Linked DNA regions of Homo sapiens: regions 1, 3, 4 and 5 are each linked to region 2. The links come from fine-mapping of genetic effects on gene expression. A gene starts in region 2. Each other region holds a variant in brackets. All regions are shown on one strand. Distances are from middle to middle.

Region 1 (5,887 bases), 210 kb after region 2:
AGGTTTTTGTTTTTGTTTTTTTTTTGAAACAGTCTTGCTTTGTCACCCAGGCTGCAGTGCAGTGGCACAATCTGGTTCACTGCAACCTCTGCCTCCCGAGTTCAAGTGATTCTCCTGCCTCAGCCTCCTGAGTAGCTGAGATTACAGGTGCCCACCATCACACCCGGCTAATTTTTGTATCTTTAGTAGAGACGGGGTTTCGCCATGTTGACCAGGCTGGTCTCAAACTCTTGACCTCAGACAATTGGCCCATCTTGGCCTCCTGAAATGCTGGGATTATAGGCGTAAGCCACTGCGCCCCACTGGATCAGGTAATGTTAACAGTCATTTCTGTAGACCAGTGAGGATGAAAGCCCAACAGAATGGTTGAGAGAATGAGGGTCTAATCAGCACTTTCAAGAAGTTTTGTTGGGATGGGAAGCAGAAATGGAGTAAGAGGTGGACATGTGGCCAGGTGTGGTGGCTCACACCTGTAATCCTAGCACTTTGGGAAGCCGAGCTGGGCTGATTGCCTGAGCTCAAGAGTTTGAGACCAGCCTGGGCAACATGGTAAAACCCCATCTCTACTAAAATTCCAAAAAGAAAAAATAAGCTGGGCATGGCGGCATGCACCTGTAGTCCCAGCTACTCGGCAGGCTGAGGCAGGAAAATTGCTTGAACCCAAGAGGCTGAGGTTGCAGTGACACAAGATGGTGCCACTGCACTCCAGCCTGGCAACAGAGCAAGACTCCGTCTCAAAAAAAAAAAAAAAAAAAAAAAGAGGCTGACATGTATGTGAGGACAGGATTTTCTTAAGATGAATACACTAAAGCAGGATTGTATGCTCACAGGAAATGCTCTAGTAAGTAGGGAAAAATTAGTAATGATGGCTTATACAAGAGTAAAATATATTAATAGTTTTTCAGGTTGCAGATGAAATCCCATCAGTAGGTTGCAAAATTAATTCAGTAGGTCAACTTATTTTTATTTTTATTTTTTTTTTAGACAGAGGCTTGCTCTGCCACTCTGGCAGGAATGTAGTGGCTGGATCTCAGCTCATTGCAGCCTCCTGGGATCAAGCGGTCCTCCCATCTCAGCCTCGTAAGTAGCTGAGACTACAGGCATGAACCACCACACTCAGCTAACTTTTTTATTTTTTGCAGACACAGGGTCTCCCTATGTTGCCCAGGCTGGTCTCTACCACCCAGGCTCAAGTGATCCTCCTGCCTACGCTTCCCAAAGTGCTGGCATTACTGGTATGAGCCACACGCTTGGCCCCATTCATTTTAACAAAAAAATAAACAATATGAGAGTGTACGCCATACATTATTGTTTCATGAGCCTTTCATTTCAGTTACACAGACATATTATGTTACGTCAATAAAAAAAAAAAACTCAAAAGGAGCCAGGTGAGGTGGCTCACACCTGCAATCCCAGCACTTTGGGAGTACAAGGCAGGAGGATCACTTGAGCTCAGTATCACCTTGAGACCAGCCTAGGCTGTAGTGAGACCCTCTGTCTACAAAAACTTAAAAAAAAAAAAATGAACAGTGAGTGATGGTGTGGGCCTGCAGTCCCAGCTACCGGAGAGGCTGAAGCAGGATTGCTTGAGTCCAGAAGGTCGAGGCTGCAGTGAACCATGATTACACCACCACACTCCCACTGGTGGACACAGCAAGACTCTGTTTCTTAAGAAAAAACAAAATTAATTAATTAAAAATATAAACATCTGAAATGCCATAGTACATATAACCATTAAACATGAGGCAAGAGAACGTGAAGGAAACTGTATCAGTCAGTTCACAGAGAACACAAGTTAGGTAATACCTACAAGTTAATATCAATCATATAAAACCCACATTCGGAGTAGATGCAAAAACTTCCATTTGCACTAGGCGCAACGAACAAGCACGGAAAAGACCACGTGGAGTTAAACTGTCAGAAAACCTTTTACCCTCGCCTGTACACACCCACACACCCCGTGCTGTTTCTCCGGTCCCAGTCCTGGCTCACATCCTTCCCTTCTCCACCCAAAAACTCGCCCCTTCCCTCACAGTGTTGACTGTTCCCATCAAACTCTGAGGGCAGCTCTTCGGAGTGAGGGCTCCCCAGGGCCCGGTGGGGCAAGCAGAGCTCTACCTGGACCTGATTCGTCTCTCCTCCACCTACTTTCAGGGCGGACAGACTCAGGCCTTTACAGCCTGCTAAGTCCCGGGTCGGATACCAGGCTGGGCTCCACCCCCGCACTGTGACCCAGAAACGCTGGTAAATGAATGAGAGAAGGAGGGGGCACATTGAAAGGCAGCCGGACACGGAGGTGCTCGGCCCCGCACCCCAGACACAGGTTGTGGAGGTTCGGAGGGGCTTGAGTCCCGTTCGTCCCTGTCCCTATCCCGGGGCCCTCCCGGACAGGGCCAGCCAGCCCCCTGCCCTCACTTCCGTACGAGGGTCGCCCAGTCCCCACGGCTCTCGGCTCTCAGAGGTCCAACTGTTAGGCTCCTCGCGTACCAAAAGGGACGCG[T/C]CCAGACTAGAGTCTGGACTTCCATGAGGTCCAGACTCGTCGCCTCTGGCTGCCAGCAGACAAGGAACTTCACACTCTACAGCTCTCCCCACCGTCGCCAACAGCGCCAAAGTGCCAGCTCCGCACGCCAAGGTGCAAGCCAGGAGCGCCGCGCTTCATGCCGGGAGCTTGGCGGACTCGGAACCTCGCGCCGCAGGTTCTCCTTTCTCGGGGGTGGGGGTGTTGGGGGGGGTGGGGGCGTGTTCCTGTATCCTTCGCCCAGGCCGACTTCAGACTGCTGAGCGTTTGCGGACAGGATTATCTCGTGTTTTCTATTGTTTGTTTGTTTGTTTTGAGACGGAGTCTTGCTCTGTCGCCCAGGCTGTAGTGCAGTGGCGCGATCTCGGTTCGCTGCAGCCTCTGCCTCCCGGGTTCAAGCAATTCCCTGCCTCAGCCTCCCAAGTAGCTGGGATTACAGGCACCCGCCACCATGCCCGGCTGATTTTTGTATTTTTTATTAGAGACAGGGTTTCACCATCTTGGCCAGGCTGGTCTTGACCTCCTGACCTCGTGATCCACCTGCCTCAGCCTCCCAAAGTGATGGGATTACAGGCATGAGCCACCGTGCCCGGCCACCTGGCTAATTTTCTTTTTTTCTTTTTTCTTTTTTTGAGACGGAGTCTGGCTCTGTCACCCAGGCTGGAGTGCAGTGGCGCAATCTCGGCTCACTGCAAGCTCTGCCTCCCAGGTTCACGCCATTCTCCTGCCTCAGCCTCCCGAGTAGCTGGGACTACAGGCGCCGGCCACCCTGCCCGGCTATTTTTTTTTTTTTTTTTAGTAGAGACGGGGTTTCACCGTGTTAGCCAGGATGGTCTCGATCTCATGACCTCGTGATCCGCCCACCTCGGCCTCTCAAAGTGCTGGGATTACAGACGTGAGCCACCGCTTCTGGCCCCCTCTGGCTAATTTTCTAAAAAAAAATTATTTGCTGTCCAAAGGGTCAGCTAGAATTTTTCTTTTATTTTTTTGTAGAGATGGGAGAGTCTCTATGTTGCCCAGGCTGGTCTTGAACTCCTGGCCTCAAGTGATCCTCCCACCTCCACCTCCCAAAGTGCTGGGATTACAGGTGTGAGCCACCGCAATGGCCTTTGTTCCCTCCTTTGTAAATAATAAATGTGTTAGATAATCCTCATAAAGTGCCTGGCACTTTATTAATTACTGTGGCAGTACAACCATGACTCTCTGTGAAGTAGATTCCTTTATTATTGACATTTTATAATTGAAGAAACTGAGGCAGTCTTGGAGAGATTATGATTTACCAAAAGTCACTCATCTAGGAACTTGTCCGGTGGGTATTGAACCCCAGTCAATCTGAACAAACACAACAGATGCATTAACTAGAGACTGGTGAGTGGATGAATAAAATGTACTACATTTGTACAATGGAAAACTATTTAAAAATAAAAAGGAGGCCAGGCTTGGTCCCAATACTTTGGGAGGCGGGGGCAGGATTTCTTGAGACCAGGAGTTCCAGACCAGCCTGGGCAACATAGCCAGACCCCCTATCTACAAAAAGTTAGCCAGGTGTGTGGTGGTGAGCACTTGTAGTCTCAGGTACTGGGGAGGCTGAGGTGGAAGAATCACTTCAGTCGGGAGGTCGAGGCTGCAGGGAGCTATGATCATATCACTGCATTCCAGCCTACAGAGTGAGAGACCTTGTTGCAAAAAATACATATAGATAGATGGATAGATACATGCTACAACATGGATAACCTCCCAAAACATGACGCTATTAATAAGTGAAAGACGCCACACACAAAATAATACATATCACCTGGCCACGTGGCTCATGCCTATAATCCTAGCACTTCAGGAAGCCAAGGCGGGTGGTTCATCTGAGATCAGGAGTTCAAGACCAGCCTGGCCAACATGGTGAAACTCCATCTCTACTGAAAATACAAAAATTGCCAGGCACAGTGGCTCACGCCTGTAATCCCAGCACTTTGGGAGGCCGAGACAGGCAGATCATGAGGTCAGGAGTTCGAGACCAGCCTGGCCGACATAGTGAAACCCCGTCTCTGCTAAAAAAACAAAAATTAGCCGGGCATGGTGGCAGGCGCCTGTAATCCTAGCTACTTAGGAGGCTGAGGCAGGAAAATTGCTTGAACCCGGGAGGCAGAGGTTGTGGTGAGCCAAGATTATGCCACGGCACTCCAGCCTGGGCGACAGAGCAAGACTCCTTCTAAAAATATATATACATACCGTATGATTCACTTTATATAGAATGTCCAAGAAGAGGCCAATCTATGGATACAGAAAGAAGGCTAGGAGAGGGGTTGGGTGCAGGGATGGGCAGTGACTGCTAATAGATATGGAGCTTCTCTTTGGGAAACGAAAATGTCCTAAAAGTATTATGGATGGCGGTGGTGGTTGCACAACCCTGTGAATATACTGAAAACATTGAGTTGTACACTTTAAATGGCAAATTGTACAGCATATGAATCCTATATTAATAAAGCTGTTAAACATTTTTTACTCGGCTGAGCATGGCGGCCCACACCTGTAATCCCAGCACTCTGGAAGATGAAGGCAGGTGGATCGCTTGAGCCCAGTTTGAGACCAGCCTGAGCAACGTGGCAAAACCTCATCTTTACGAAAAAAAAGAAATTAACCAGCGCAGTGGCTCGCACCTGTAACCCCAGCTACTCAGGAGGCTGAGGCAGGAGAATCGCCTGAACCCAGGAGGCAGAGGTTGCAGATCGCGCCACTGCACTCCAGCCTGGGTGACAGAGCAAGACTCCATCGCAAAACAATAACAACGGCCAGGCGCGGTGGCTCACACCTGTAATCCCAGCACTTTGGGAGGCCGAGGAGGGCAGACCACAAGGTCAAGAGATCGAGACCATCCTGGCCAACATGGTGAAACCCTGTCTCTATTAAAAGTATAAAAATTAGCTGGGCGTGGTGGCGGTCGCCTGTAGTCTCAGCTACTTGGGAGGCTGAGGCAGGAGAATCGCTTGAACCCAGGAGGCAGAGGTTGCAGTGAGCCGAGATCACGCCATTGCACTCCAGCCTGGGCGACAGAGCGAGATGCCGTCTCAAAAAAAATAAAAATAAAAAATTAAAAAACAACAACAACAACAACAAAGTGCATAAAATGCCACCCAGATCTAGCTGGCCTGGTTAGTGTGGAGAATTCCCTGTACCTTCGTTGAGAAAATGGGGCCCCACAAAGAAATGCTAAAGCTCCTCCTTGTGTTATTCATTCAACAAGTATGTAGCCATGGCCCATCGGGGGCTGATGATACAAATGTGACTAACACACACCCTCTGCACTGGCTAGCTGACAGCGTAGTTGGGGAGCCAGCTCTGGACATAAATAACCACAATGCATTGTGTTTTGACGCG
Region 2 (5,887 bases):
AGTAGCAGCTAACATTAACTGACCTTTTACCAGGTGCCTATAAATACCATAGTATAATTTCTTATAACTGTTTCTTACTTAACTTAACCACTCTGTTTTCAATTACTCCCAGAATTTCACTGTGTTTATGCAGATGACCTTTTGTTTAGATTGAATTGTCTCCCCAAGGTATTTCCAGAAGTAAGATTACTGTGAGTCATGGTGAATGGGCATTCTCATTGCCCTTGATGTACATTGACAAGGTTTTGGGTGCCTCCTGGCTATAATCCCAGCCCTTTGGAGGCTAAGACAGGAGGATTGCTTGAGGCCAAGAGTTGGAGGAGGCAGTAAGGTGAGACCCTGTCTCTATTATTTTAAAAAATTGCCAACCTTTACCTTGGAAGACTATGTACAATTTAAACACCCCTCCTAGTATAAGAAAGTGTCCATTTCACTGCACCTTTGCCTGCACAGGGTATTATAATTTAATAAGTTATTTTTTGTTTGATTATTTTAAATAGATAAAATACCGCATATTACTTGGTCACATTTCAGCATCTTCCCTTAGCTTATTAGCTCTATTTCTTTTCTGTCTGTAAATGGTTGTTGTTGTTGTCGTTTTGTTGTTTTGTTTGAGACGGGGTCTTGCTGTGTCACCCAGGCTTGACTGTAGTGGCATAATCATGACTCACTGTAGCCTTGACCTCCCAGGCTCAAACTATTCTCTTACTTCAGCTTCCTGAGTAGCTGGGACTACAAGTGTGCACCACCACTCCCAGCTAATTTTTTTCTTTTTTTGGATAGAGACAGGGTCTCACTGTGTTGTCCAGGCCAATCTCTAGCTCCCGGCCTCAATCAGTCCTCCTGTGTTGGCTTCTTAAATTGCTGGAATTTCAGGCATGAGCCACCATGCCTGGCCTGGGCTAGTCCTATATTCTCTGGAGTTCTCTTTACTTTGTGCTAGCCAGTCTCTCATTATGCTGTTCCCCTGTTACAATGAATAATTCTCTGTATTAAATTTACCACTTTAAACTTTTGAGTGGTTTATGTCTCCTGGTTGGACTCTAATATGCTAAGAAGGGTCCCTGGAGATAGACTCACACAGATGGGATTTGGGGATAGGTTTGGTTATCCAAGGGGCAGTGCTGAGCTCCTTGCCAATGGGAAACGGAATGCTGGTGATTTCCAGGAAGTGACCTCACAATGACTCAAGCTACTGCTTACTGTTGATTGTGATGAAATGCCAGCTGAGGCACATGCCTTGGGAGCTAAGTGGTTGCTGCACTTGACCGCTATGAAGACTGGTGTGGGAATGGTCCTTTTGGATGCACTTCAGCAGGGGTCCCCAACCCCTGAGCCATGGAGCTGTAAGGAGCCACACAGCAGGAGGTGAGTGGTGTTGAGTGAGGGAAGCTGCATCTGTATTTACAGCCACTCCCCATTGCTCACATTCCCGCCTGAGCTCCGCCTTCTCTCAGATCAGCAGCAGCATTAGATTCTCATAGGAGCATGCATCCTATGCAAACCGTGCATGCGAGAGATCTGGGTTGTGCTGTCCCTATGAGAATCTAATACCTGATTATCTGTCACTTTCTTCCATCAATTCAGATGGGACCATCTTGTTGCAGGAAAATAAGCTTAACATGTCCACTGATTCTACATTATGGTGAGTTCTATAATTATTTCATTATATACTACAATGTAATAATGGAAATAAAGTGCCTAATAAATGTAATGCGCTTGAATCTTTTGGCTCAGCTCCTGCCTCCCGGCAGCCTCTCCAGGTCCAGAACTTTCTCCAGTCGGCCTCTACGGGCCAAGCTTGTGGCTCACAATGGCCTATTTAGGCCCATACCCTACCTCATGGCAGTCTCCACAGATGAGGCTGCTGCCTCATGGCAGCCCCCACAGGCCCAGCTCCATCATTACAATGGCCTCTTTAGGCCCAACTCCTGCCTCCCAGCCTTCTCTCCAGGCCCAGAGAGAAGGTTCTCAAGTCAACCTCACCAGGCCCAGCTACTGCCTCTCATCAGCCTCCCAAGGGCCATCTTTTGCCTCACAGCCACCTTCCAAGACTCAGCTCCTGTTTTACAGTGGACTCTTGAGGCCCACCTTTTGCCTCCCAGTGGCCTGTACAGGCCCAGCTCCTGCCATACAACAGTCTCTTTAGTCCGAGCTCCTGCCTCTGGGCAGCCTATACAGGCCCAAAATGTCCATAAGTCAGCCTCTCAAGGCCAAGCTCCTGCCTTCTTCCGTTGGCCTCTCCAGACCCAGCTGCTGCCTCCAGGTGGCCTCTAAAGGCTGAGGTTTCTCCTGGCTGTGCCTGGAGGCCCAGCTCCTGCCTCACAACAACCTCTTTTGGTTCAGCTCCTGCCCAGCTCCTGGTGGCCTTTGTAGGCCCAAAACTGCCTCAAGTCAAGCTCTCCAGACCCACCTTCTGCCTCCCAATGGCCTGGACAGGCCCAGCTCCTGTGTGACAACAGCATCTCCAGGCCCAGCTCTTGCCTCCCAGCTGACTCTCCAGGCCCAGCTTTTGCCTCACGGAGGTCTTCCCTGAACAAGTTTCTACCTGCCTCCCGGCAGCCTCGACAGGCCCAGGTCCTGCCTCACACTAACCTCATTACGCCCAGCTCATGCCTCACGGCAGCCTCTCCAGGCCCAGCTCCTGCCTCCGACGGGCTGTCCAGGCCCAAAACTTCCTCAAGTCGCCTCTTCAGGCACAGCTCCTGCCTAACACTGGCCTCTTTAGGCACAGCTCATGCCTCTCAGTGGCCTCTCCAGGCCCAGCTCCCGCATCCCGGTGGCTTCTCCAGACTGAGAACTTTCTCAAGTCTGCCATTTCAGCCCAAACTCCTGCCTCCCATTGGCCTCTACAGGCCCAACCTCTGCCTCACAGCAGACTTTCCAGGCCCAGTATCTGCCTCACCACAGCCTCCCAGGCAAAGCTCCTGCCTTTCGGCAGCCTCTACAGGCCTAGCTCCTGCCTCCCAGTGGCCTCTCTAGGCCAAGCTCCTGCCTCATGGTGGCCATTCCGGCCCAGCTTTTGCCTTTTTGCAACCTCTTTAGTCACAGAACTTCCACAAGTGAGCCTCTCCAGGCCCAGTTCTTCCTCCTAGCTGAATCTCCAGGCCCACCTCCTGCCTCACAACAATCTCTTTTGGCTCAGCTCCTGCCCAGCTCCTGGAGGCCTTTGTAGGCCCAAAACTTCCTCACGTCAAGCTCACCAGCACAATCTTCTGCCTCTTGGTAGCCTGGATAGGCCCAGCTCCTGCATGACAATGGCCTTTCCAGGCCCAGCTCTTGCTTCACGGAGGTCATCCCTGGCCAAGTTCCTGCCTACCTCCCAGCAGCCTTGACAGGCCCAGCTCCTGCCTCACACTGGCATCATTAGGCCCAGTTCATGCCTCACGGTGGCCTCTCCAGGCCCAGTTCCTGCCCCTGACAGACTCTCTAGGCCAAAATCTTCCTCAAGTCGGCCTCTCCAGGCCGATCTCTTGTCACACTGGTCTCTTTAGGCCCAGCTCATGCCTCTTGGCAGCCTCTTCAGGCCCAGCTTTTGTGTCCTGGCAGCCTCTCCAGGCCCAGCTCCTGCCTTCTGTCAGCCTCTACGGGCCCAATATCTGCCTCACAGCAGATTCTCCAGGCCCAGCATCTGCCTCACCGTGGCCCCCCACAAGCCAAGCGCCTGCCTTTCAGCAGCCTCTACACACCCAGCTCCTGCCACCCAATGGCTCTTTAGGCCAAGCTCATACCTCACGATGATTTTTCCAGGCCCAACTTTTGTCTCATGGCAACCTTCCCTGGCCAAGTTTCCACCTATTTCCTGGCAGCCTGGACAGGCCCAGGTCCTGCCACACACTGGCCTCTCTACGCCCAGCTCATGCCTCACAGTGGCCTCTCCAGGCCCAGCTCCTGTCCCGGGACATCATCTCCAGGCCCAAAACTTCCTCAAGTCGGCCTCTCCAGGCCCAGTTGCTGCCTCCCGGCATTCTCTCCAGGCCTAGCTCTTCCTCCTGGCTGTATCTACAAGACCAACTCCTGCCTCACAACAACCTTTTATGGCTCAGCTCCTGCCCAACTACTGCCGGCCTTTGTAGGCCCAAAACTTCCTCAAGTCAAGCTCTTTAGGCCCACCTTCTGCCTTGCAGTGGCCTGTACAGACCCAGCTCTGGCTTGAGAACAGCCTCTGCAGGCCCTGCTCTTGCCTCTTAGCTCCCTCTCCAGGCCCATCTCTTGCCTCACAGTGGCTTCCGTGGGCCAAGTTCCCGCCTGCCTCCCAGCAGCCTCAACAGGCCTAGCTCCTCCCTCACAATGGCTTGTTTAGGTCCAGTTGATGCCTCTGGCAACCTGTCCAGGCCCAGCTCCTGCCTCACACTGGCCTCTCTAGGCCGAGGTCCTTTCTCATACTGGCCTGTTTAGGCCCAGCTCATTCCTCTTGTCATCTCTCCAGGCCCAGCTTTTGCCTGTTGTTGGCCTCTACCTCACAGTGCACCTTCCAGTCCCACCTCTTGCCTCACCATGGCCTCCTCTGACCAGGTTCCTGCCTTTCGGCAGCCTCTACAGGCCTAGCTGCTGCCTCCCAATGGCCTTTGTAGGCCACGCTCATGCCTCACTGTGGCCTTTCCAGGCCTAGCTTTCGCTTTTTGGCCACTCCAGGCCCAGAACTTCCCCCAGTCAGCCTCTCCAGGCCCAGCTCTTCCTCCCAGCAACCTCTGCAGGCCCAAATCATCCTCAAATTGGCCTCTTCTTTCCCAGCTCCTGCCTCCTGGTGGCCTCTGAAGACCCAAATCGTCCTCCAGTTGGTTTTTCCAGGCCCAGCTCCTGCCTTTTGGTGGCCTCTCCAGGTGCAAAACTTCCTCCCATCAGCCTGTCCAGGCCCAGCTCATGCCTCTTGGTGGCCTTCTCAGGCCCTGCTTTTGACTTGGTGGCCTCTTCAGGCCCAGAACTTGAACTCAAGTCAGCCTCTCCAGGCCCAGCTCCTGCCTTCTTAAGGTCTGTACAGGCCCAGCCTCTACCTCACAGCGGACTCTCCACACCCAGCTCTTGCCTCACTGTAGCCTCCCCAGTCCAAAACTCCTGCCTTTTGGCAGCTTCGACAAGCCCAGCTCCTGCCTTTCAATGACCTCTTTAGGCCCCGCTCATTCCTTACAACGGCCTTTCCAGGCCCAGTTTTTCCCTTTTGGCGGCCTCTCCAGGCCCAGAACTTCCTCAAGTCGGCCTCTTTAGGCCCAGTTGCTGCCTCCTGGCATCCTCTGCAGGCCGAGCTCTTCCTCCCTGCTGTGTCTACAGGCCCAACTCCTGCCTCACAACAACCTCCTTGGACTCAGCTTCTGCCCAGCTCCTGGTGGCCTTTGTAGGCTCAAAATTTTCTCAAATCAAGCTCTCCAGGCCTACTGTCAGCCTCGTGGCAGCCTAAACAGGCCCAGCTCCTGCCTGACAATGGCCTCTCCAGGCTTTTCTCCTGCCTCGCAGCAGGCTTTCCAGGCCCAGCTCTTGCCTCATGGTGGCCTTCCCCGGCCATGTTCCTATCTGACTTCTGGCAGCCTCAACCGGCCCAGCTTCTGCCTCACACTGGCCTCTCTAGGCCCAGCTCCTTTTTCACAGTGGCCTCACTAGGCCCATCTCCTACCTCAGATCTGCCTCCCAAGACCCAGCTCCTGTCTCATGGTGGTCTCTCTTACACCAGCTCCTGCCTCACAATGGCCTCGTCTGGCCCATCTTCTGCCTCACAGTGGCCACTCAAGGCCCATCTTTTGCCTCATGGTAGCCTCTTCTGGTTTTGCTCTTGCCTCACAGTTGCCTCTTCCAGATCCAGCTTTAAGCCTTTGATGGTCAACAGCATCAAGGAGCCTAAAGCTTCCCTGGACTCTCATTTGTTCACTTTACAGCAGAGTGCCTTAGCAAAAAC
Region 3 (5,887 bases), 120 kb before region 2:
CAGCCTCCCAAGTAGCTGGGATTACAGGCATGCGCCACTGCACCCGGCTAATTTTGTATTTTTAGTAGAGACAGGGTTTCTCCATGTTTGGTCAGGCTGGTCCTGAACTTCTGATCTCGGGTGATCCGCCTGCCTCAGCCTCCCAAAGTGTTGGAATTACAAGCATGAGCCACTGTGCCTGGCCAGTAAATTCTTTAATATGCTCTTTTTAGTTTATCATTTCAGTTTACATTGTTGTTGATTCCGCTGTTCTCAACTGTTGAGTTTGATTTCATTATTATGTGTTTTATTTCCAAGTGTGCTTCTCTACTATTTTTTTCCTTTTTTTTCTGCTGTATAGTTTCTCTTCTTGTCATCTGCTGTTTCTGTAGCAGTTTCTCTTGCTTTGTCAATGTAATATCCTTTTAAATCCCTGTTAACTCTCACTGAGGTTGTTGATTAGAATTTTTTAAAAAGTTTTCTGTGCTTTCTTGCCTTGACTTAACTCTTTTTGAGGACTGCTTGGTCTCCTTTACAGCTCCTGATTGTCATTTATAACACCTAGTCATTTTCCATTGTCTTTGCCTACTTACAGTGAAAGTCTAGGCTAGTTTAAATTGGTAATTTGTATTCTTTAATGATTGTTAGCCCCCGAGTGAGCCTCACTTTCATAGCTTTCCTTCCCTCACACCAAAGGAAAAGTAGGAGATCTTAGTATTAGAGGCCTACTTCATGTATATGGCCTGTTGATGAGGATGCCTGCTCTTTTTTGACGTCTGGGGAGAGTTCCCAAATCTTTTTGTATTTTACTTCCTGGAGTCTCTCCAAGATGATTCTCTATATAATCAGGCAAACAAATGAGGAAATGTCACTGCTTGGCCAAATTGCTTTCCTTTGTGCCCTTGCTTGGCTGGAATTCTCTCTTCTAGCCCTCTCACTCCTTGTGGTGTTTGGTGGGTAACCTCACTATGAAATTTCACTTCCATTTCTGGTAGAAGATTAGTTTAAAAACTTTCAAGTGCTACTTTTTTTTGTTGTTTTTTTTTTTTTTTTCAGGAAAAGAATTAGAATGAATGTTGCTTCCAGAGTAGGTTTCCATTTGCCATCTACCCCCGGCCCCATTTTTTGTTCATCAGCAAATACTTATTGAATGCTGCCTGTGCTAGGAAATATATGATGAAGAATACAAAGTCTACTCATGGAGACTATATTTTAATAAAAAGACTAAACTTTGACATCATTCTCTTACATATTTTTACATAAGGAAAGAGTATTTGTTTTATCTTGGTGGGAACTTTTATTCATCCAATGAATAATATATTAAAGAAAACAAGTGGGAAATTTCATGCAGAAATTACATACAAGAAATAGGAAGAAAATATACAAAGGTCAAAACTTAGTAAGTCACATTGACCTAGCATGTTGCCTGGATTATTTAGGTATGCAATAACTTTTTACTGAAATGGAATGTTCTCAAGTACTGTGAGGCCAAGTAATTCAAGATAGAGAGGAAGGAACACCATCCATGTCTGTCGGCAAAATAGTAGCAAAACCTTTTCACCTCTCGCATAGGAATTTAGTTAACTTTTTAGGTATGTTTCTTGGAGCCCTTACAGTATCAACTACATTAGTAGGCTATACCGCTATGGAAAAAATGATCTCTGAGTAAATTGCATGTAGACCAGAAGGAAATATAAATGAACTAGTTTCCAGATGCCGATACAATGGCTGTAGGCTTCATTGAGTGCAGTGATTCTTGAAACTGGGTAGATCTTGCAGCAGTCCACACAGCTATCTGGGAGCTTTCATCCCAATGCTGACAGCTCATGTGCAAGGAGATGAGATCTAAATCAGATAGGTATAGAGACCATGCTAGCTGAGATGTTAATGAAGCAAGGACTCCTGAAGAAGGGGAACTTGACACTGTACTGCCCACATGCTATGCTTCTCTTCTGTATTCGTAGTGAGTCTAGTGCCAAGTGTAGCCTGTGATAGTCTTTGATTTTTAATATTCTTTGAGCTTAATGGGCACTGCAGTGGTTTAATCAGGTCTTGGGATCCCGACAGGTGTTTCCCCCAGGTCCATTAGGAGTCTTCTGTTACTTTTAGAGATCGTTTTTATAGTGTAATATACTAATTTTCCTTTAATTTAGGCTCAGGTTTCTGGGACTTTGGTCCACCTCAGTTTGCAGATTTCACAAGCAAATTATTTTACGTTTCTTTTCTACAGACTTTACCCCTTATTTGGGATGTGTGAAAAATTTTTACAGGAAGTAGACTTTTTTCAGAGGTAAGTATTTTATAACTCTTCCGGCTTATAAAATCTTGGTTACACGGAGTATAGCACTTGCAGGCAATAGGAACAATCACAAATCACATTCCTTGGTTTAGCTTGTGCAGCCAGGCTATCATCTGTGGCCATGTCGTTAACCTTAAATTAGGAAAAAAAAACTAATTTGGTTTTTTTCCTTAATATTATAGAAACTTCTTTGAAGTTGGAGCTTCAAAACTAAACCTACCAGGAATCACTTGCATTTAGCACTCAGCTAGGCCATAAAAACACAAGTAATATGAAGAAAACGTGTAAATACGTTTGTTGAAAAAAATCATTAGTCATCTGTTTTTTTCAACACTGTTCGTTCACACCATTCTTATTTATTTATTTATTTATTTATTTATTTATTTATTTGAGACAGAGTCTTGCTCTGTCACCCA[C/G]GCTGGAGTGCAGTGGCGCAGTCTTGGCTCATTGCAGCCTCCGCCTCCTGGGTTCAAGTGATTCTTCTGCCTCAGCCTCCCAAGTAGTTGGGACTACAGGTGCCTGCCACCACACCTGGCTAATTTTTGTATTTTTAGTAGAGACGGGGTTTCATCATGTTGGCCAGGCTGGTCTCTAACTCCTGACCTCAAGTGATCTGCCTGCCTTGGCCTCCCAAAGTGCTGGGATTACAGGCATGAGCCACCACCGCGTCTGACCTCATTATTATTTTTTGAGACAGGGTCTCACTCTGTCACCCAGACTGGCACAGCTCACTGCACCCTTGAACTCCTGGGCTAAAGCTATCATCCTACTTCAGACTCCTGAGTAGCTAGGACTACAGGCATGTGCCACCATGCCTGGATAATTTTTAATATTTTTTTTAGAGATGGGGTCTTGCTGTGTTGCTCAGGCTGGTCTCAAACTCCTGGCTTCAAGAGATCCTCCTGCCTCTGCCTCCTGAAGTATTGGGATTACAGGTGTGAACCACTGCACCAGGCCCACACTGTTCTTATACTTGCATATTTCTCTGTAATCTACAAACAATTGTTTTGTAATTCTATAGGTAAATTTTATTTTGTAGAATACATATATTTTTTCAGAGTTTTATATGGAATGAATCTGTTAAAGCACATGCAGTAGTTGAATGGAAAGCTTGATGAAGAAATAGGAGTCAAGGGAGTGACCAGACTTCTGGTATGCTGGCAGAATAATACTGGGAGAAGACATAGGATCTTAAAGCACTGATGAAGTCTGTTTCATTTCTTCCGCTCATTGTCTCTGCCCTCATGAAGTTCACCAAACCTGAGGTTTTTGTGACTCTGTACTTGTCATTGGGGTGATGATAGCTTCTTACAGGGCTGAGTTGCAACGCTACCTTCACCAGCAGGTAATGCTGTCTAGCAAACTGTACCATCTAGCTTAGCTTTTTAAGATCCTAGTTTTGAGGCTGGGCGCGGTGGCTCACGCCTGTAATCCCAGCACTTTGGGAGGCTGAGGCGGGTGGATCATGAGGTCAGGAGTTCGAGACCAGCCTGGCCAACATAATGAAACCCTGTCTCTACTAAAAAATACAAAAAATTAGTAGGGCGTGGTGGTGGGCAGCTGTAATCCCAGCCACTCGGGAGGCTGAGGCAGGAGAATTGCTTGAACACAGGAGGCGGAGGTTCCAGTGAGCCGACATCACGCCATTGCACACCAGCCCGGGCAATAGCGCGAGACTCCTTCCCAAAAAGAAAATAAAAAATAAATTCTAGTTTTGAATCTGAAATAAGTTCATGCCTTACTTTTGGCTTTAGATTCTTTAAAGTAGAGAGTCTGTTTTTGCACAGTTGGGTTGAAAAGATTTTTGGGAAGATGATAGCTCTGAATCCCCAAAGTTCTTCATCTGATGTTCTTAATTCATCCTTTGAGTTCCTGCACAGATATCACCTCCTCAGTGAGATATTTTTTGACTATCCACTGGCACGAGGCCCAAAATTGGATCAGTCTGAGACAGGAGTAACGTACTTAACTTTTCTGAGCCTCAGTGAGGCATCATCCCCTCTGAGTCTCAGTATTTCTGCCACTTGAATGTAAGCTCCATTGAAGCAATCGTTTTGTTCTCTTTTGTTCACTGTGTTTCCAGAACCTAAAATAGTGCTTGGTGCTTCGTAGGTCTTAAAAATGTATTTGTTAAAATAATTAATGAATCTATAATATGAAAATAAAAATTCTAATGATGCATAGGATTGCTGGGAGTTAAATAAGATCATGTAAAACACTTAAGAGTATGCCTGGCACATAATGGTTATCAATAAACAGAGGCCTTTCTGATGATCATGTGACTGAGGCATGATTGTATAGGTACCAGTCTATCTTGGTCGTAAATTGCAAGCTCTTCTCACTTCATCATTCTTCCTACTTCAGGGTTTGGTAGGTGTCTGGGGCCCAGCCTGTGGTGAATGTGTGCACAGTTGAATGAGTCAGTTGCTTCTGTTTGTTCCTCCAGGTATTTCATCGCTGATTTGCCCCACTTGCAGGACAGCTTTGTGGACAAACTCCTTGACCTTATGCCCCGACTCATGACATCCAAACCTGCAGAAGTGGTCAAAATTCTACAGACCATGCTGCGACAGAGTGCCTTTCTGCATCTCCCACTTCCAGAGCAGGTCAGGGTCTATTTGGCCCCTGTAGGCCAAATCTGTCCAGACGGTCAAAAATCTTTACCTTGGTGATCTTCTTTGACCAATGGAGCAGCTGGGCTAGGCTCTTCCTCTGAGTGGCTCCCACATGCCCACTCATTAGATAAGGAGACAGAAAAAAGATGTGTTTTCTTGTCCAGGAATGACCTGGCTTTAGAATCATAGGATTTTCCTCTGGCTTACAGATCCACAAAGCCTCAGCCACCATCATTGAGCCAGCGGGCGAGTCAGACAACCCTTTGCAGTTTAACTCTGGGTTGGTGGTTGCCCTGGATGTTGATGCAACCCTGGAGCATGTGCAGGATCCTCAGAACACTGTTAAGGTCCAGGTCTGTCGGGTTTGGGTCCTCGTGGAGCTTCTAGACTGACCTTGTGTTGAAGTATTTAATGTTAGTACCCCTATAGTCTCTACTTGAGGGACAGAAACTGGGACAGGAGAAGAAATGAGCCTCTGTGGGAAAGAACCTAGGCTTGAATCTCAACTACTGCTGAGTGTGGTTTGAAGCAAGTTACTTTAAACTCTGAGTCTCAGATTCTACAACTGACAAATAGGAGGAGTTGACATAAAGAGATAATGAATTTAAAGCCCCCAGGACCCAGTAAGGGTTCAGTAAATGATAAGACCTTTTCTAATCTTGTAATGTGACGTTAAGATTTGGTCTTTTATTACAGAAAACTATAATAAACAAGTTCCTTTCAGGCTGTGAGTCAGTCAGCTGGCAGATAAAATTTATGGATGGGAAAAAGCGATTACTAGGAAATATTCTTTCCCAAGTTACATAGATGTAATAGAGACACATGAGAAATGTAGTAGAGACACTAATCAATTCAGACAGTGCAGTTAAGCCCCACAAAGAGTACTACTCCTTCATTCATCCATCTGTCCACTCATTCATCCTTCCTTCCATCCATTTGTGCAATTGTGTTTACTCTATTGCATGCACTAAGTGCTGTGGTTGCCAAGGTAAAT
Region 4 (5,887 bases), 65 kb before region 2:
GGGAGGGACTGCTTAAAGAACACATGAGGCTCCCTGGGCCGTGCTATCCCGGCACTTTGGGAGGCCGAGGCAGGAGGATGGCTTGGGTTCAGGAGTTCGAGATGCGCCTGGACAACATGACGCAACCCCGTCTCTACGAAAGATACAAAGATTAGCCAGGCGCGGTGCACGCTTGGCCTAATTTTTGTATCTTCCGTAGAGATGGGGGGGGTCTTGCTATGTTGCCCGGGCCGGTCTCGAACTCCTGGGTTCAAGCGATCTTCTCACCTTGGCCTTTAGAGTTGTTGGGATTACAGGCGTGAGCCACCGTACCCTCCTGGGCTAGGCTATTTAATAACATAAGAAAGTGCGGTGGCTCACGCCTGTAATCCCAACACTTTGGGAGGCCGAGGCGGGTGGATCACCTGAGGTCAGGAGTTTGAGACCATCCTTGCCAATATGGTGAAACCCAGTCTCTACAAAAAAATACAAAAATTAGGCTGGGCGCGGTGGCTCACACCTGTAATCTCAGCACTTTGGGAAGCTGAGGCGGGCCGATCACCTGAGGTTGGGAGTTCAAGACCAGCCTGACCAACATGGAGAAACCCCATCTCTACTAAAAATACAAAATTAGCCGGGCGTGGTGGTGCATGCCTGTAGTCCCAGCTACTCAGGAGGCTAAGACAGGAGAGTCTCTTGAACCCAGGAGGCGGAGGTTGCAGTGAGCCGAGAAGCATCACTGCACCCCAGTCTGGGCGACAGAGCAAGACTCCAGAGCTTGAGACCAGCCTGGGCCATGTAGTGAAACCCTGTTTATAAAAAACAAACAAAAAAAGCCAGGTGTACCTGTGTCCACCTGTGGCCCCACTACTTAAGAGTCTGAGGCAGGAGGATAACTTGAGGCCAGGAGCTGAAGGCTGCAGTGAGCTATGGTCATCCCACTGCTCTCCATCCTGAGCAATAGAATGAAACCTTGTCTCTAGATAGCTAGCTAGCTAGGTAATTGATACGTAGTTTTCTATCGGAAATCTTTTTCCTAGACTTGAACATGTTTTTCTAAAGTAGCATTCAACACATCAGCATTTTACAGTGTTATTAGTTGTTAATATGATTATGTTTTTCTGAAATACAGTATTCTTTACCAAAACAGTGTTGTCTTTCAAAGCACATACATAGGTCCTCCAGTGAATTTGTCTGATGTTGGCGACCTTCGCTTTCTGGTGACTGAGTCAACAGTATCTGTTTCATAAATAATGTAGCCCTATTTTTTTTGAGACAGGGTCTTGCTCTGTTACCTGGGCTGGAGTGCAGTGGCATGATCTCTGCTCACCATAACTACCGCCTCCTGGGTTCAAGCGATTCTCCTGCCTCAGCTTCCTGAATAACTGGGATTACAGGCGCCACCATATCTGGCTAATATCTTTTTGTTTTTGTTTTTGAGACGGAGTTCGCTCTTGTTGCCCAGGCTAGAGTGCAATGTCGCCATCTCGGCTTACTGCAACCTCCACCTCCCGGGTTCAAGCGATTCTCCTGCCTCAGCCTCCCTAGTAGCTGGGATTACAGGCATGTGCCACCACGCCTGGCTAACTTTGTATTTTTAGTAGAGACAGGGTTTCTCCATGTTGGTCAGGCTGGTCTTGAACTCCCTACCTCAGGTGATCCGGCCACCTCAGCTTCCCAAAGTGACAGGTGTGAGCCACCGCGCCCAGCCTAATTTTTGTATTTTTAGTAGAGATGGGGTTTCACCATGTTGGCCAGGATGGTCTTGAATTCCTGACCTCAAGTGATCTGCCTGCCTTGGCCTCCTAAAGTGTTGGAATTACAGGCATAAGCCAACATGCCCGGCCAACCCTATTTCTTTAAGCATATACATTTTGCACTTGTTAAAAGTATTTGAACATAAAATTATCCAGCTTCCCTTGTTTATGTATGTTTGAATTTTGTATAAGCTTAAATATTTTTTCCAATCTAAGCTTTATTATATTCCCTTTCTTCTATATTTGTATAACTTTAGGTGGCTGTCTTTGTTGAAAGTTTTTTCTGAAAAGCCTTAAAACAATATAGTTATTGGCAGCAATTTCAGAGTTATTTGAGGGCAAGGGGAGATTTATAATGATGATTCAAATGAAGCAAACTAAAAAGTAATGAAGCAAGACAGAGGATAAAGCAGTATTCACTTGAGCACATCCCAAAAGAATAAAATTTCAAATGTAACTAGAAAAATGTATGCTGAAGATCATAGTACAGGAATAATTATTAATATTCAAAATAGCTTTAAAGCCGCTCACCTTTTGAATGTTGGGAATTTACCAGGAGGTGGCTGTAACCTAGAATTGTTCCTTCAGTAATGACCATTTTCTTTTTCAACATGATGATGATTCTCCACCTTCTAAGAGACCAAAGACCAACAAACTACCACAGCCACCAGTTCCGGAACCTGCCAATGATGGGCAACGGAAAGTGAGGGAGTTCAACTCTGGTAAGTTCTCAGTGAAATCCACAACCTTTTCCCTCATCTTCTGGACTCTCAATGTGGCTGATGAAAGTTACAACATGCTCATCTGCAGGGGGAAATGCTTTAGCATGTATTACTATGTTATAATCTCACCTTTGTAAAGCCAGGAGCTTTTTGAAAGTCCCATTATAGACATTGTTTAAACATGGTTTGAATTTACCAAAGCATAGGACATTGTTTCATCTCATATTAATTAGTTGGCTCAAAATTAGTCCTAATGACTTAGGAATTCAATGGTTTCTCTTAGCTTTAAAACCTTCTTTATTTCAGAACTATTTCACCTGTTGGTTTTCGTTTTTGCTGTGTGTCACTGCCTGCCAGCTGCTATTGTGTTAACTCCCAGTGGATCATGTGTCCTGTGAAGGGACTGAATGAGATATTAATGGCAAATTATGTTGATGATTCATATTTTGAATATAAATAGATCATTAAGCTTGTATACATTTTGAAAATAGTATGTTAATATTCTGTTGTGTCATAGTCACAATGATTGGCTACATATTGAATTTATATGTACATTAAGTTGTTGTATGCTTATGTTCTTTAACATTCTAACTTGCAACTGTATATCTGTTAAGT[CT/C]TTTTTTTTTTTTTTCCGAGAAGATCAGACTCTGATTTATTGAGGCATCTGTTTGATGCCAAGTTAAGTGGCCCAGGCTCTGTGTAGGGGGTGAGGTTAACGCAGGAAGAAAGATGGTGAGGGGCAAGGGTGCAAGGATTATGTTGGAATGAGGCTCCCCAAGTTTCCCTGGCCCTGGCTGGTTGTGCTGCTGGCCTGAACATCTGATGAGCTTGCAAGGGTGACTCCGAGAGGTGGGTGGTCCAGGGGCTAGGGCAGGGACTTTGGAGTCACGCTGTTGGCTTTGAATCCAGACTCCTACACTTGGTAGCTGTGACCTTTCCATGCCTCAGTGACCTGCAGAACTGAGCTCTGTCTGAGCCAGGTCCCATCCAGGCACTGCAGATCCATCCAGAGTTAAACCACCCCAGGTTGCTGACTATCTGCTGCCTTCTCAAGCAGATCCTTGTCTCCTTGGAGGCCTTCACAATCCAGTGGAGGAGGCAAAACTCATCTGCCTCTGTCCCTCTGGGTGCACCTCATGCCAGGTGCATCTGTGGGCACAGGTCATGCTCCTGGGCTTCCAAAGTTGGAGAAAGTTGCCAGGCTCAGGTGGCTATATCAGAGCAGCTGCTACCCTCTGGACACAGTGACAAAAGAACACTCTGGGCCTAGAGTCCTGGTCTGGGGCACTGGGCAAGGCTCTTGCACTTCTCTGAGCCCGTTTCCCCATCTGGAAAGTGTGCTGATTGAGTCTCCCTTTGGGCACTGAGGGCTCAGGGTTAGTTTGAGAGCCAGCATCTGGGGTTTGGGCTGTAATTCCCCTTCAGCCCCATAGCTGGGGGGAGTCAGGGACTTTGTCGGGATTACCCTAGGCATCAGTCCAGCTTCCTGCTCCTGGCTTGGGCTCAGCATCTGAAGTAGTTTGGGGGGCAGGTGGTCCTGGTGGGGGTTGGGGCTTTTCCCCAGAATTAGGTCACACCCAGAGCCAGAAATCTTGGCACCTGCTCTAGGCTAAGGATGCATCTGGCCCCCAGGGTGCAGGTAACTGCCCACCTTTCCTGGTTTCTGCCTGCCAGGGCCAATCTTCAGACCTCGGGACTTCCCAGCCTATCCCACCTCCCTCTCTGGCCAGCCTTGAACCCTCGTGGGTCCAGCACTTTTTCCAGGCCATCTCCTGGTTGTCCTCCTGCCCCGAGGCCTGGCTCATGCTGCTCCCCCTCCCACTCACCATGACCCACAAGGACCACTCCACACCCAGCTCAGCCCCAACCCCTTGGATAGTCCTTTCGCTTTCCTCAGGCAACCAGGTGCATATCTTGGTGTCAGGACCTTCCCTGCACCTGGGAATGCCTACTGGTCACGTCGGTCACAGAGACCAAGGCATTTACTTGATTTGAGTGCCTTTGGTTCATTGTCTGCATGGCCAGGGAGGGAGTCAATGATAGGCTTTTCACTTGCTGCAAGGGTCAGTTCTCCTGGCCCCATGGCCCTAGGGATGGAGGATGCTGCAGGATACACACCCCTCACTTCCCAGCTGAGTGCTGTGGGTCATCTCAGGGCGATTTCACAGTCCCGCATGCCCCACCCCCTCAGCTCTGCAAATACCAAGCAGCGCAGCCTGCCTAGGGGACAGTGGGCTCAGGACTGCCCAGGTGGGCTCAAGACTGCCCAGGTAGTCCCCAGAGTGCCCTTGGCAGGCCCCTCACCTAGCTGCTCCCACAGCTCTGTAGCAAGAGTCTAACCTTTTTTGAGTGTGGAGCCTGCTGAGAATGAGAACTGTGGGCTGTTTTCCCGGAAACGCATGTGCACACTCTCCACACAAAACCTTGCATCGTTTCAGGGGGCTCACACCTCCCTAAGGGCCCAGTTATTGAACCCCTCGGACCTGAGAATGAGAAACCTTGCCTCAATAGAGTCTTGCTCTGTTGCCCAGGCTGGAGTGCAGTGGCCCAACCTCAGCTCACTGCAACCTCCGCCTGCTGGGTTCACGCAATTCTCCTGCCTCAGCCTCCTGAGTAGCTGGGACTACAGATGCGCACCTACCACTCTCAGCTAATTTTTTGTATTTTTAGTAGAGATAGGGTTTCACCATGTTGGCCAGGATGGTCTAGATCCCTTGACTTCGTGACCCGCCCGCCTCGGCCTCCCAAAGTCCCAGGCATGAGCCACCACGCTGAGTCAGGGTCCCTCTTAAACTTGTATTTTTAAGGTCTGGTGTCCCTCTTACTTAATCTTTTTTTTTTTTCTTTTTTGAGACGGAGTCTTGCTCTGTCACCCAGGCTGGCAGTGGCATGGCCTCGGCTCACTGCAACGTCCGCCTCCTGGGTTCAAGTGATTCTCCTGCCTCAACCTCCTGAGTAGCTGGGACTACAGGCACCTGCCACCATGTCTGGCTAAGTTTTATATTTTTGGCATAGACGGGGGCGGAGGCAGGGGGTTGGGGAGGGGAGGGGGGATTTTGCTTTGTTGCCCGGAGCTCGAAGTGATAATCTGCCCACCTCTGCTCTCAAAGTGCTAGGATTACAGGCCTGCACCACTGCACCCAGCTGCTGTAAAGCCTTATTTCCACACAGCTGAGACATGTTTTAGGAAGTTTGCGAAAAGGCCTCTGGAGACCTCCTCATTGTGGCCTCCCTGTTGTCGTGTTTAATTTGATTGATCTTTTCTGCCCTCCTTTTCAGAAATTAAAGGCTAAAAAAAGGCATTAAACTTTAAAACTTCTCTTGTAGTCTCCTATTAAACTAATTCTAAGAACCACCAAAAAAGGGAAAAATGTTTTCGAAAGCAGTAAAATGATATGGACTGTTAGTATGTAAAATATAGGAAATAAG
Region 5 (5,887 bases), 110 kb before region 2:
CCATCCACCGACTGTGTCTCTCTCTTCCTTCCACTGTCACTGTGTAATAATTGCCCTTCTGCGGCTGGGCATGGTGGCTCATGCCTGTAATCCCAGCACTTTGGGAGGCTGAGGTGGGAGGACTGCTTGAAGCCAGGAGCTTGAGACCAGCCTGGGCAACATAGTGAGACTCCATCTCTACAAAAAAGTTTAAAAATTAGCCATGGGCTGGGTACGGTAGCTCACGCCTGTAATCTCAGCACTTTGGGAGGCTGAGGTGGGCGGATCACCTGAGGTCAGGAGTTCAAGACCAGCCTGGCCAACATGGTGAAACACTGTCTCTATAAAAATACAAAAATTAGCTGGGCCTGGTGGCATGCACCTGTAATTCCAGCTACTTGGGAGGCTGAGGCAGGAGGGTCACTTGAACCCAGGAGGCGGAGGTTGCAGTGAGCCAAGAATGCACCATTGCACTCCAGCCTGGGTGACAGAGCGAGACTGTGTCTCAAAAATAAAAATAAAAGTTAGCAAGGCATGGTGGTGTGCACCTGTGGTCCCAGCTACTCAGGAGGCTGAGCTGGGAGGATCACTTGAGCTCACGAGTTCAAGGCTGCAGTGAGCCATGATTGGGTCACTGCACACCAGCCTGGGTGATGGAGTGAGACCTTATCTCTCAAAAAAAAAAAATGTCCTTTTGATTTATGAAGCCTCGGCCCGGCCTGAGCTGTGGGTTCCTATTCCTTCTGGCTTTCTCAAGCTTTTCTTGTCCACTGGAAGCTTTCACTAGAGGGTAGAGGACTGGCTCTGTAATTGGGGACCTAATTGATGCTCTGTTTTCTGTAAAGAGGAATTTTTCTAATTGCCACTTAGCAGGGAGCCTGGCTAGGGATGGAATCTGGGGGCCTTACTATTGGTTCACCCTCCTGGGGACCCCTCATCTTTGGTCCATGCATATTCTCCTTGGGGTGGCATCCTGGAATTAATGATCTCTTACACATCACAGCACCTCGAAGCTCCCCCAGACACATCCTCATCCAGCCTCTCACTCTGATGCCATCATTGTCTAGGGACACCTCCGCATAGGTCCATACCATGTCTCAAGCTGCTCATCTCAACAACATTTGTGCTCCAGGAGGTGGAGGTGCCCTAGGGGGCTCCTCACCAAGGGAGTGGGCAGGTGATCCCAGCACTTTGGGAGGCCGAGGCAGGTGGGTCATTTGAGGTCAGGAGTTCATGATCAGCCTGACCAACATGGTGAAACCCTATTTCTGCTAAAAATACAAAAAAATTAGCCAGGCCTGGTGGTGCATGCCTGTAGTCCCAGCTACTCAGGAGGCTGAAGAGAATCGCTTGAACCTGTAAAGCGGAGCTTGCAGTGAGCCGAGATCACACCACTGCCCTCCAGCCTGGGTGACAGAGTGAGATTTAATAAAAGTGTATGCATTGAACCCATTGGGAGGTTTATCTGTTAGGGAAATGGGAATAACTGGGAATCACACAATCAGAGAGACAGGAGTCGGGACTTGCATGGGGCTGTGATGCCGTGGCCTGTGGGTCTGGGTGGGGGAATGTGATGCACTCTGCCCTCCCCCTAGGCCCCATCCCTCCTGTCTAACTCAGTTGTCCTTACCTGTGGCTCTCAGGCTCCCCTGCAAAGGCACATTGTGGCTGCAGCTTCCAGCTTCCTCAGAAGCAAACATCCTTTGGTAAAAGCCAAGAGGTCAAGCCGGGCTTGGTGGTTCACTCCTGTAATCCCAGCACTTTGGGAGGCTGAGTATCACGAGGTCAGGAGTTCAAGACCAGTCTGGCCAACATAATATAACAGTATAACGTATAATAGTCGAATGCATAAAAAAAATTACAATGACAGCAAAAAAAACAAAACAAGACCAAAAAAAGACAAATCAGACTTACCTTTCTCCGTGCTAGATTTCTAGGAGGCCACACTCTTCTCTTCCTGTTCCTCCCCTAAATAAAAATGGAGCACAAAATTATGACTACAGATTTCTTCAAGAAAGACCTGTAGATTCTGCAAGAGCAAGATCCTAGAAAGAGAGAATGAGGAAATGAACATTGAAGTCCAGACACAAAACAGGAAAGAGGGAGACTGGCTTCACTCTCTCCTGGTGGGACTGTCACAAAAACGAGTCAGAGGCAAAATTTCCTAAGACTGCTTCCTCTAGGTAATGCTTTAGTTTTACCCCCTTCAAGCACTGCAGAGTCAGCATATTCTTTTCTGTGGCTTCAATTCTGCAAGATTCAGGTCTGATAGGAAATCATGTAAACCTGATTAGCAGAGTACAAAGAAAAGAGAGAGGCAGAGGGAGAGGGAAAGAGAATCTCTTGGGAGAACTAAATGAATAGACACAGAAGCAGACTCAGGCGGGCGCAGTGCCTCACGCCTGTAATCCCAGCACTGGGAGGCCAAGGCTGGTGGATCACTTGAGATCAGGAGTCTGAGACAAGCGTGGCCAACATGGTGAAACCCTCTCGCTACTAAAAATACAAAGATATTAGCCAAGTGGTAGTAGCATGTGCCTGTAAGCCCAGCTATTTGGGAGGCTGAGGCAGGAGAATTGCTGAACCCAGGGGGCAGATGTTGCAGTAAGCCCAGATCACGCCACTGCACTCCAGCCTGGGCAATAGAGAGACACTCCGTTTCAAAAGAAAAAAAAATTCACCGGATGTGGTGGCACATGCCTGTGGTCCCAGCTACTCGGGAGGCTGAGGCAGGAGAATTACTTGAACGCCAGAGGTGGAGTTTGCAATGAGCCGAGATCGTGTCTCTGCTCTGCAGCCTGGGTGATAGAGCGAGACTCCATCTCAAAAATAAATAAATATATAAATACAGGGGACAGAGACAACAGCATTCCAAGATGAATCAGAGAAAGGATCTGCTGCCCAATTACAAGGAAGCAAAGACAACAGTTTGTGTGTGTGTGTGTGTGTGTGTGTGTGTGTGTGTGTGTGTGTG[T/C]GCGCATGTCTGAGACAGGGTCTTGCTCTGTCACCCAGGCTGGAGTGCAGCAGTGCAATCATAGCCCACTGCAGCCTAGAACTCCTGGGCTTAAGCAATCCTCCTACCTCAGCCTCCTGAGTAGCGGGGACTACAGATGCACACCACCATGCCCCGCTAAGTTTTTATTTTTTGTAGAAACAGGGTCTCGCTATGTTGCCCAGGCTGACATTGAACTCATGGCCTCAAGGAATCCTCCCACACTGGCCTCCCAAAGTGCTGAGATGACAGCCGTGAGCCACCACACTGGGACTGCAGTTTCTTATAAAGTTAAACATATACTTATCATAGGACCCACCAAGGCTGGGCGCGGTGGCTCATGCCTGTAATCCCAGCACTTTGGGAGGCTGAGGCAGGTGGATCACCTGAGGTCAGGAGTTCAAAACCAGCCTAGCCAACATGGTGAAACCCCCGTCTCTACTAAAAATACAAAATTTCCAGGCATGGTGGCACATGCCTGTAATCCCAGCTACTAGGGAGGCTGAGGCAGGAGAATTGCTTAAACCCAGAAGGCAGAGGTTGCGGTGAGCCGAGATTGCGCCATTGCACTCCAGCCTGGGCAGCAAGAGTGAAACTCCATCTCAAAAAATAAAAATTAAAAAGACACCCAGCAATCCCAGTCTTGGAGTTTTATCCAAGAGAAATGAAAACATATTCATAGCAGCTTTATTTGTGACTGCCCAACACAAGAAAAAACCCAAATATTCACCAACAGATAAATAGCTAAACAAATTGTGGTATATCCCTACGATGGAACACTACTCAGTAATAAAAAGAAATGAATTACTGATACATGCTACAACATGGATAAATATTTTAAAAAATATACCAATAGGGCTGGGCGCGGTGGCTCATGCCTGTAATCCCAGTACTTTGGGAGGCTGAGGCAGGTGGATCACGAGATCAGGAGATTGAGACCATCCTGGCTAACACGGTGAAACCCCGTCTCTACTAAAAATACAAAAAATTAGCTGGGCACGGTGGCACATGCCTGTAGTCCCAGCCACTCAGGAGGCTGAGGCAGGCGAATCGCTTGAACCCAGGGGGCAGAGGTTGCAGTGGGCCAAGATTGCGCCACTGCACTCCAGCCTGGGGGACAGAGCAAGACTCAGTCTCAAAAAAAAAAAAAATTATACCGATGGAAGGCCAGGCACGGTGGCTCACACCTGTAATCCCAGCACTTTGGGAGGCCAAGGCAGGCAGATTACCTGAGGTCAGCAGTGACCAGCCCAACCAACATGGTGAAACCCTGTCTCTACTAAAAATACAAAATTATCTGGGCATGGTGGCGCATGCTTGTAATCCCAGCTACTCAGGAAGCTGAGGCAGGAGAATCACTTGAACCCGGAAGGCAGATGTTGCAGTGAGCTGAGATTGCGCTACTGCACTGCAGCCTGGGCAACAGGAGCGAAACTCCATCTCAAAAAAAAAAAATTATACCGATGGAAAGAAGCCAGACACAAGAGCACATACTGTTTCAGTTATATGAAACACTAGAAAATACAAATGCCCTAACAACAAAGATCAGATCAGTAGGGCTGGGGGTTGGGACGGGGCTGACTGGAAAGAGGCCCTAGGAACCTTCTGGGTGATGGAAATGTTATTGTGATGATTACAAGTATGAATAAATTTGTCAAAATTCATCAAAATGCACACTTAAAGAGTGTATTTTATTACATTTAATTATATAGCAATAAAACACTGGCTTTAAAAAAGTCTCTGATAAGAGGCTGGTCTAGGCAAACTTGAGGATCCCTTCCACCCTAATTCTAGCCCAAATATTTTCTTTTTTTTTCTTTTTTTCTTTTTTTTTTCCTGAGATGGAGTCTCACTCTTGTCGCCCAGGCTGGAGTGCAGTGGCGCGATCTTAGCTCACTGCAATTTCCACCTCCCAGGTTCAAGCAATTCACCTGCCTCAGCCTCCTGAGAGCTGGCATTATAGGCACACACCACCATGCCCAGCTAATTTTTTGTATTTTTAGTAGACAGGGTTTCACCATGCTGGCCAGGCTGGTCTTGAACTCCTGACCTCAGGTGATCTGCTCGCCTCAGCCTCCCAAAGTGCTGGGATTACAGGTGTGAACCACCATGCCCAGCTAGTCCAAGTATTTTCTTAAAAATAAAATAAAACAAGGCCGGGCATGGGGGCTCACCCCTGTAATCCCAGTACTTTGGGAGGCCGAGGTGAGAGGATTGATTGAGCCCAGGTGTTTGAGACCAGCCTGGGCAACATAGTGAGACGTCATCTGTACAAAAAATAAAATAAATGAGCCAGGCATGGTGGTGCATACTTGTAGTCCCAGCTACTTGGGAGGCTGAGGGGAGGATCACTTGAGCTCAGGAGTTTGCGACTGCAATAAGCTATGATTGCACCACTGCACTCCAGCCTGGGTGACCAAGTGAGACCCTGTCTCTTAAAACAAAAAAGAAAAGAAGGAAGGTAGGTATCAGGCATATATTAAATCATCTGAAAATTTTAAAAAGTCCTGATTACTTTGTTTCACCGACATGAAAGTGACAGGACTATGGTCATGATATTGAAAACCTACCTGGCACTGTAATACAGGAATATTGGATTTTATTATTTTCCTCCCTGATTCTCATTCCAATATCAGTCATCAAATATTTAAAAAGTAATAATATGCAAACATACGTAAAGAAAATATAGTGGCCAGGTACAGTGGCTCATGCCTGTAATCCCAGCACTTTGGGAGGCTGAGGCGGTGGATCGCTTGAGGCCAGGAGTTTGAGACAAACCTGGCTAACATGGTGAAACCCTGTCTCTACTACAAATATAAAAATTAGCTGGGCATGATGGCATGCGTCCAGCTACTCGGGAGGCTGAGGCAGGAGAATCCCTTGAACCCCGTAGAGGGAGGTTGCAGTGAGCCAAGA

Direction of the effects. Positions count from the first base shown, and alleles are read on the strand shown. Sizes are in standard deviations (SD) of each study's normalised expression. Not every link is listed here.
In carriers of allele C in region 1, the expression in whole blood of the gene that starts at base 3,259 in region 2 tends to be lower than with T alone (moderate effect, 0.48 SD a copy in GTEx).
With allele C in place of G in region 3, the expression in fibroblasts of the gene that starts at base 3,259 in region 2 is lower (large effect, 0.85 SD a copy in GTEx).
As copies of T replace C in region 5, the expression in iPS cells of the gene that starts at base 3,259 in region 2 goes up (large effect, 0.82 SD a copy in HipSci).

The links. PIP is the estimated chance that this variant, and not a neighbour inherited with it, causes the effect. A credible set is the group of variants that fine-mapping cannot tell apart.
Region 1: its variant is the best candidate, but not a certain one, in a credible set for the expression of LINC03129 in whole blood (GTEx, PIP 0.50).
Region 3: its variant is the best candidate, but not a certain one, in a credible set for the expression of LINC03129 in fibroblasts (GTEx, PIP 0.81).
Region 4: its variant is the best candidate, but not a certain one, in a credible set for the expression of LINC03129 in lymphoblastoid cells (GEUVADIS, PIP 0.76).
Region 5: its variant is the best candidate, but not a certain one, in a credible set for the expression of LINC03129 in iPS cells (HipSci, PIP 0.52).

What each region holds. Positions count from the first base shown.
Region 1 is chr7:66,041,803-66,047,689 of GRCh38, forward strand. LOC105375336 (a long non-coding RNA gene) reads right to left here and starts at 2,612. Exons shown (of 5, transcript XR_002956511.2): 1 at 2,488-2,612. RefSeq lists enhancers at 2,280-2,780, 2,351-2,440, 2,761-2,830. The variant T/C (reference allele first, on the strand shown) is at 2,501.
Region 2 is chr7:65,836,446-65,842,332 of GRCh38, forward strand. LINC03129 (long intergenic non-protein coding RNA 3129) reads left to right here and starts at 3,259. Exons shown (of 1, transcript XR_002956508.2): 1 at 3,259-5,887. RefSeq lists an enhancer at 2,597-3,108.
Region 3 is chr7:65,713,439-65,719,325 of GRCh38, forward strand. The region is part of intron 3 of LINC03006 (long intergenic non-protein coding RNA 3006); the gene reads right to left. It also overlaps the pseudogene INTS4P2. Among named protein-coding and RNA genes, the nearest start is that of SNORA22, 39 kb to the right of the region's middle. The variant C/G (reference allele first, on the strand shown) is at 2,695.
Region 4 is chr7:65,771,277-65,777,163 of GRCh38, forward strand. It overlaps the pseudogene GTF2IP5. Among named protein-coding and RNA genes, the nearest start is that of LINC03006, 3.4 kb to the left of the region's middle. RefSeq lists enhancers at 4,114-4,615, 4,616-5,115. The variant CT/C (reference allele first, on the strand shown) is at 3,074.
Region 5 is chr7:65,725,162-65,731,048 of GRCh38, forward strand. It overlaps LINC03006 (long intergenic non-protein coding RNA 3006), which reads right to left. Exons shown (of 8, transcript NR_038378.4): 3 at 1,894-1,947. Among named protein-coding and RNA genes, the nearest start is that of SNORA22, 27 kb to the right of the region's middle. The variant T/C (reference allele first, on the strand shown) is at 2,954.